Linked DNA regions of Homo sapiens. The protein of the gene in region 2 interacts with the protein of the main gene of each other region in a pairwise test. Each region holds a gene or a part of one and is shown on either strand. Other genes may lie near its edges.

Evidence for each region. The genes of interacting proteins can lie anywhere in the genome.
Region 1: the proteins of GAD2 (region 2) and RHEX interact in binary tests that used the Homo sapiens proteins (3 or more experiments, as listed by UniProt).

Annotation. Positions count from the first base shown.
Region 1 is NC_000001.11:206,091,173-206,094,920, forward strand, and holds part of RHEX (regulator of hemoglobinization and erythroid cell expansion protein), read left to right. Parts: intron 1-3,748. UniProt on the Homo sapiens protein: Acts as a signaling transduction factor of the EPO-EPOR signaling pathway promoting erythroid cell differentiation.
Region 2 is NC_000010.11:26,214,681-26,218,428, reverse strand, and holds the start of GAD2 (glutamate decarboxylase 2), read right to left. Parts: upstream 1,656-3,748; 5' UTR 1,620-1,655; coding exon 1,544-1,619; intron 820-1,543; coding exon 760-819; intron 588-759; coding exon 438-587; intron 1-437. UniProt on the Homo sapiens protein: Catalyzes the production of GABA.

The DNA of each region.
Region 1 (3,748 bases), on a different chromosome or scaffold from region 2:
AGTATCTACCTCCTGGGGTGGTTGTGAGAATTGGATGAGTTAATGTATATAAAAATTTCTGCCACATAAAACATGCTCAGTAAATATTCAATACCCTTATTATTATTAGAGATGGGAGGAACTTTCCATTTCCAGAAATTATAACTTCTAGTACTCATTTCGGATAAGGGTTGCAGCATACACCCTTGCTCTCAAATAGCTGCAAAATAATTTACCATTTTGTCAGATACTGATTATTGGTGCAGTAATCAATACTGCACTGACTTACTATTCTTTATTATAGTAAGAAAAAATCCTCATACTTTTATTAACTTCAAAAATCAGTAATAAGTATTCAGTTTATCCAGTACATTTTGGCACTTTACCAAGATCATAATTTTAAAAATTTGCCCTATCAATATTGTATTTGTATTATATAAAAGACAGCTTCCTGACATGATTGGGATTTAGGATTTTGAGTCAGTTGGTTTAGGAAACATGAGTCTTCCAGCTGGCAACGTGGCAAATTTTTCAATCTTCCTAAGCCTTAGTTTCCTCATCTATGAAGTAGTGGTAATGTCTATTTTTGTAGAGTGAGAGGATTAAAGCACATGGAAAATACCCAATGTTTGTTTCCATCTTTGTAATAATCAATTTCCTCAACATCCTGGGCTAACTTCTTGATATTACCATATATATATACCTCCATATTCATAAATGAGATGAACCCAAGAGTTTCTGTCTTCCTGTGCCCTGTATTGGCTTGTAGAATAATAATTATGTGTTCCTTAAAAGTTTGAAACTCCTCATTTGTCAAACCATTTGGACAGGTATTGAGGAGGTAAGTCTGATAATGCTTCTAATTTATTTATTTATTTATTTCTCTTTCTTTCTCTCTTTCTCTCTCTCTCTTTCTCTCTCTTTCTTTCTTTCTTTTCTTTCTTTTCTTTTTAATAGAGATGGGGTCTTGCCTTGTTGCCCAGGCTGATCTCCAACTCCTGGGCTCAAGCTATTCAACTGCCTCAGCCTCCCAAAGTGCTAGGATTACAAGTGTGAGCCACTGGGCTCAGCCAATGCTTTTAATTTCTAAATAATAATAGCTTGCATTCATTGGATGCTTAGTACTATGTGCCAAAAGTTCTAATAACTATTTCACATAGCTCATCTAATTTCATCCTCAGAAGTAGTTATCATTTATATTTGTCTTATCTAGTCCCGAAATTAGTTACTGTTCCCATCTTACATATTAAAAGACTGAGGCTTTGAGAGGTTAAATAGCCAGGCCAAGCTCATGCAGAGAATGAGCTGGGATTTGAACCCAAGCAGTCTGACTCCAGGTTCTTTGTCTTTAGTGGCTAGATACCATGCTCCTTCCTAAACTTATTTCTTGTTATTTTGGTTTGGTTTTGGTCTAAGCTTTCCGTGCCATATGGAATCAATTTTGTTAATTTATACTTTTCTAGGAAACTATCCATTTTACTGAGATTTCATCAAAAAAAATTTTGTAGTCTAACTTTTTTTAAAACCTCTTCTTTTTTTTGGTACCCCATTTTTGTTGAAAAATGTTAATCCCTTCTGTTTCTGAGATTAATAGTCCCTATATTATTAATTTGGTTTATTTGTGTTTCCTCCTTTTCTTGATTATTGGAAACTGCATATTAAACTGGGAGAGAAAGTCTAGCAATGTGGAGGAGGCTGAATGTTACAAAATGGAAATAAAGATTTTTTTATTTTTAAATTTTCCATTTCCATCCAGCTTTGCTTTCTTTTCGCCTTACTTCACCCCAGCCTTTAAAGAGCAGGATGCTCAGGGCTGAAAAGAGCCTTAGGAGTACTTTGCCAAGCTCCCTAATTCACCAGGGCCTAGAGGGGACATCTCCCTGTCCAAAGTCACACCGTTAGCAAGTGACAGAGCCAGGAGAAGGCAGGCCCTAGCTCCCTTCTTTCCCCTTCTTTTGTTCTCCCTTCTTTTTGTTCTCTTTCCATTATACCTTAGCTAATGTTAAAAACAACAAATTAATGGAGACAGCAAAGAAAGTTTACAGCTACTTCATTTGAAAAGATTAATAAAGTCAGTTGACAATGTTGATTATAATTACTTTGATCCATATGATTTTTCTTTTTTTTTTTTTCCTTTTCAGACAGAGTCTTGCTCTGTCACACAGGCTGGAGTACAGTGGCGTGATCTCAGCTCACTGCAACCTCCGCTTCCTGGGTTCAAGCAATTCTCTGCCTCAACCTCTCGAGTAGCTAGGATTACAGGTGCCTGCCACCATGCCCGGCTAATTTTTGTATTTTTAGTAGAGACGGGGTTTCACCATCTTGGCCAGGCTGGTCTTGAACTCCCGACCTCATGATCCACCCACCTCGGCCTCCCAAAGTGCTGGGATTACAGGTGTGGGCTACTGCGCCTAGCCTAATCCATATGATTTTTCATAGAAATCATCTTCTATTGTGATCTTGTTTTAAACCGTTCTTTCTAGAATAAACCTATCCAAAGAAAGCATGGTGTATGGCAGGAAAGTGGGCATCTTTTTATTCTCCCCCTGATATTACGCTGTACCTATTGGAAAGGCCATGAGAAAGCTCCTGTATCAGTGGAGGAGGGAAACTTAATAAAATGGAATCCAGCCTTAACTCAAGTCTGAAGCAAACAAAATAAATGCTCTTAGCACTGGGACGAAGTAGGGTTTTTTTTGGTCGGGGGAGGAGGGACAGGGTTTTACTCTGTCACCCAGGCTCTTCTCAAACTCCTGGTCTCAAGTGATTCTTCCACCTCGCTCTCCCAAAGTGCTGAGATTACAAGCATGAGCCACCGTGCCCAGCCTAAAGTTTGGTTTTGAGGTGCCTGGCAGGGCACTACATTAGTGTGGGGGCTGGATGTCAAAATTCAGCACAGTGGAAGAGGACAGAACCGTCCCTACCTCGAGGATGGAACGAGGCACACCAAACCCTCACACAGTCCATGCGCTTTTTCACAACATAATTACCTTAAATTGCCCATTTCCTGGTTATTTGGTGTGTGTGTGTGTGTGTGTGTGTGTGTGTCACGTGCACGCGCAAATGAGCAGATGTCTCTGCTGATTGTCTGATCAGCAGTCTGCAATTAGACCCCAAGGAACAACCTGCTCATTGTGGTTAGGGGCCATTAGCCACTTAAATAATGACATCTGTCATAATTTTCATACCTTGGATCTTATCTCCAAACTGTACTCAAAACAAATGCCTAAGTTTTCTAAAATAGACCAATCCAATTTTTAATAGTTCTAGTCACCATCGTGGTGGAGGATTTTAGGGTTGAATAATACCTAATAATTACTGAGTGCCTCGTATATGCCTGGAATTGTATAAAGGTCTTTACAAACAGCATAAATCACTGAGCTCATGCAAGAACTCTGTGAAGTAGGAAACTATTATTCTTCTCACTTTATAGATACTGAAATTATTAAACTGAGACACTGAATTCAATAATTAACATCTAGAAGGGAACTGAACTGAAATTAGTATTTAAGAATGTTGGACGTCCGTATTATTTACTGTTTTCATTTGGATGAGCTGCTGTGTGTCATTTGGCTAGTAAGGGAGACAGGGTCTTACTCTGTCACCGGGCTCTTCTCAAACTCCCGGCCTCGGTGATCCTTCCACCTCGCTATCCCAAAGTGTACGCTCTGAGTATATGCTCAGAATATATTAAAATGTGGAAGATGGTGTAGGCAATCTAGTTTTGTATAAAGGGCCAAAATAAGGCATTAATCTTAAAATAATGGAA
Region 2 (3,748 bases):
TTCTCTTGTGCAATTGCAGCTACAAATCACTCTCGTGATCTAAAGACCTAAAAAAAATGCAATTCTGAATTCTCGGGCACGGTATTTGGAAACTGAGTCCCACCCGAGGCCCCAGCGGCCTAGGGAAGCCAGCCGTCATCGATTCAGTGAGCGCACGAGCGCCTGGATCGTCGGCCACCCGCCATCCCAAGGGCCGCGCTGGGGGAAGAGCGCCACGGCCTCAGAGCCCTCTTGGAGCTCCGAGGCCAGGTTCGGGGGCTTGGACCCAGCGGGCAGGTCCCGCATTTCTCGCTTTTATCTGAAGATTCTGGCAGGTCCCGCCTCCGCTGCCACCTCGACGCCCCTGTCCGGCTCTCAGCGCCGGACCCGCACCGGCCGCGGTGGGCGGGGCAGAGAGAGGGGCAGGGGCGCCCCGGGGCTCCCCGCTGAGTCTTTACCTGTTGCATGGAGAAACGCGTAGTTGACATCCACTTTGGAGCAGCTGCAGGGCTTCTGGTCGCAGGCGCAGGCGGCCTTCCGGGCGGCGGCCCGCGGGGGTTGGCTCCCGCCGCTCTCCGCCGGCTTCTCGGCGTCTCCGTAGAGCAGGGCTGGGTAAGGACACCGAACGCGGGCCTCGTCAATCCTCCGCCGGGCCCGGCTCCCTCGCTCCCGCCTACCCGCAGCCAGGAAACCCCGACTCCGCTGACTGGGATGCGGAGGTGAGAAGACTGCTTGGACCCCGCGGGCCGACCTTGGCCGCCCCGGTCCCTGGGCACTCACCGCACAGTTTGTTTCCGATGCCGCCCGTGAACTTCTGAGCCACTTGGCACCAGGCTCGCGCTGCAAGGAAGAATAGGCAGGCAGACAGCGAGGCAGAAAGAGAACAACAGACGGACGTGTGAAATTTCGTTCTATGTGAAAATCAATCAGTCCGGGGTCCTAGGAGGGGCCGCCTTCCTCCTGGGGGCCGCTCAGGACTCGGTGAGGCCGGCAGGTGCAGAAGGCAAGCGGGAGGCTGGCGGCCCGGGCCAGCCCTCATTTCCTTTATCTGTTTCCCGAGGAGAAGCCCACACCGCTGCCCTTCCAGGTGCCAATCGGCTCAGGCAAATTCCTCTCCCTGCCTACCTTGGACGAGTTTTCCTAAACACTGAAGCTATCCATTTTTTCGCAGACTGTCTTTCTAGATAAAGAAATCTCTCACCTTTCCCATTTTTTTTTTCTATCTTCACGGTCACTCCGTCCCACCCCAGGGTCCAGACACCCGGATCTTAGCAGCGCCCCAGGACCACGGAATTCCATGTCCCCGAGACACCGCGGTCTTTGGGGGGCTCTTCCAACCTTCTGTGGAACGGGCCTGAGACTATTTGGGCGTCTTCCCAGGGTACAAGAGGCTGTAGAGGTCTTGAGCTCTTGGGCCGTCAAGGACTTAGCCCAAAAGCAGGGAGAAGCGCCCGAAGAAGTTTCCTGTTGCAGGTGGAAAAACCTCCTTCGTCTTCTCCGTAGTTCCGCAAACCCCAGACCACCGCAAAACTCGCCCGCCGCAGGCCCCCGTTCTCCTTCCTACCTGTGCCGGGATTCTCGGAATCCCCAGAGCCATCTTCCGACCCGAAAGACCAAAAGCCAGAGCCCGGAGATGCCATCGGCTTTGGAGACTGGAGCAGGTCGCCTGCGAGTGCGAGCTGCGGGCGAGCTGCCTCGGGCTTGGCCCTGCGCGCGCGTGCGTGCCCGTGTGGCGGGAGGAGGGCACCGCGCGGGGACCGGCGGGGCCGAGCGGCGAGGGCGGGTGTCACGCAGGAACAGAAAACGTGCGTGTCTGTGCGTGTGTGTATGCGAGCTGGAGACAGGGTTTAGGGACGTGGCAACCCTTTGGAAGCCGGGGAGCTTTAAAAGAGACCGGGACTACCTAAGGGTCCTCGGAGCCCGGACTCAGGAAAGCGCGGAGAGCCCCAGAGCATTTGAGGGAAAGGGAGCCCAGTGGGGATGAATGAGGGGGCGGCGGAGGAAAAAAACACGAGAGAGGGAGGGAGCTGAGTCGTGAGGATGCGAGGCAGACCATGCACGCCAGCTGGAGTCAGAGTGAGGGGGTGGGAGGCGTGCCAGCGCGTCCTCGGGCGAGCCAGAGGCGGGAAGTGCGGGCGGCCGCTGTCCCGGGTGCTGCCACAGCCGCTGCGCGCCAGCGTCAGCGAGGGGCAGACTGGGGAGACCTCGGCGAGGCGGGAAGCGTGGCCCAGAGGAGTTTTCTGTGTGCATCGATTGGGGTTTTGTTTGAGGTCTGGCTCCAGCTGAGGGGAAGGAAGCGGGGTTCCCGCGCCGTTTTCCTCCAAGCAGGTGCTGAGGTCACTGCGACCTCGAGAGCTCGCGCCCCGGGCGGGCATCAGGCGCCGTTCACGAGCCTGGGGAGGGGACGGCGGGGGAAGGGCTCCTACCCGCTGATGGGCTCATTTCAGCGCCTTGGTAGAACCTGACGCCTGCCTGCTGAACCGCGCCGTACCCGGGGGCGCACCGTTCCTGCGTAGCCAAGGGCTAGATCGCGGGACCCACCGTCCAGGCTCTGAGTGACGGCTGGGGAGAATGACTGCTGATTGAGGCAATTAAAATCCACGCTGGAGTCTACTGAGGACCTCGGGCTGGGGAAAAAAAAATAAAACGAATGGAAACTTCTTGGAAGAGAATGAGGCAGAGCGGCCAGAGTCGGCAGGATTGATGGCGGGTGGGGGATGGAATCAGGGCATTTGGTGACCTTGGCCCGCGGAGGCGTGGAAGCGCCCGCTGCTTGCGTGTAAGGGGGATCTGTGTGCGCCTGGGAGGGGAGAACAGGGTTTCCAACTAAGCAATCTCGGCTTTACAAATCCGAGTAGGAAAGAAGGCATCGCCTGCAGGGCCCTCGTTTTAAGGGGCTTCAAACCAATGCCCCCCCTCGCCCCCAGAGAATCTTCGCGGTAGCGGGTGACCCGGAAGCGCGAGATTGGTTCTCTCTGAGGCGTATTAGGAGGCGGTTTCTCTTTTTCTAATAAAGAAAGGAGGAGAAAGTCAGAATCGTTCTGATGATTTCCTTTCTACAAAAAGCTATTGCAGACAGGGAGGACGCCCTAAGGATTGGGAGCCCTTTGACAGTTTGCGCTGCGTTCTCCTGGCAGTGGAGATGAACTTCAAGTGCACCTCGGAGCTCCGGGGCTCTGGGGGAGACGGAGGGAGGGAGAGAGAGGAAAGGGCTGAGGTCGGCTTCCCGAGGCGGCTGCCTTCCCCGCGCCTGGCCAGAGCGCCTGTCATTTCCATTGTGTTCACAAGTCGTTTTATTTCTCTGACCTCCTGAACCAGCCACCAAAGCTGCTAACAAAGCAGAGACCCGGGGATCCCGTCTGGGCGAGCACCCCTCGACCCTCGCTTAGAAGGGACATCCTGGGGCCCATGCTGGACGCATACAGGCCCAAGTCCTGTGTGCTCGAGCATAACTGTCCCTGGTCAATTCTCTCCACAAAGCGCTGTCTTCTTCTCGCGTGCCTGAGTCCAGGGGTTCCCTGAGGAGTCATGGGATCCACACTATGGCAACTGGGCCCAGGCGCCAGGATGAGAGCAGGAAACCAGTCGGGCGTTGATAGCGTCCTGCCGAAGGCTGGCACTGAGCGTGCTAGGTGAAGTCTGTTCCAGGCTGTGGGAGCCCGGGTGGTCGAAAACTCAGGGCTCAGTTTGGCTCCTCTTTCTTGCTCTCCTGGCTCTGACACTCTAGGTCACCACAATAACAACTCCGGAAACCTAAAGACTTGTGGTT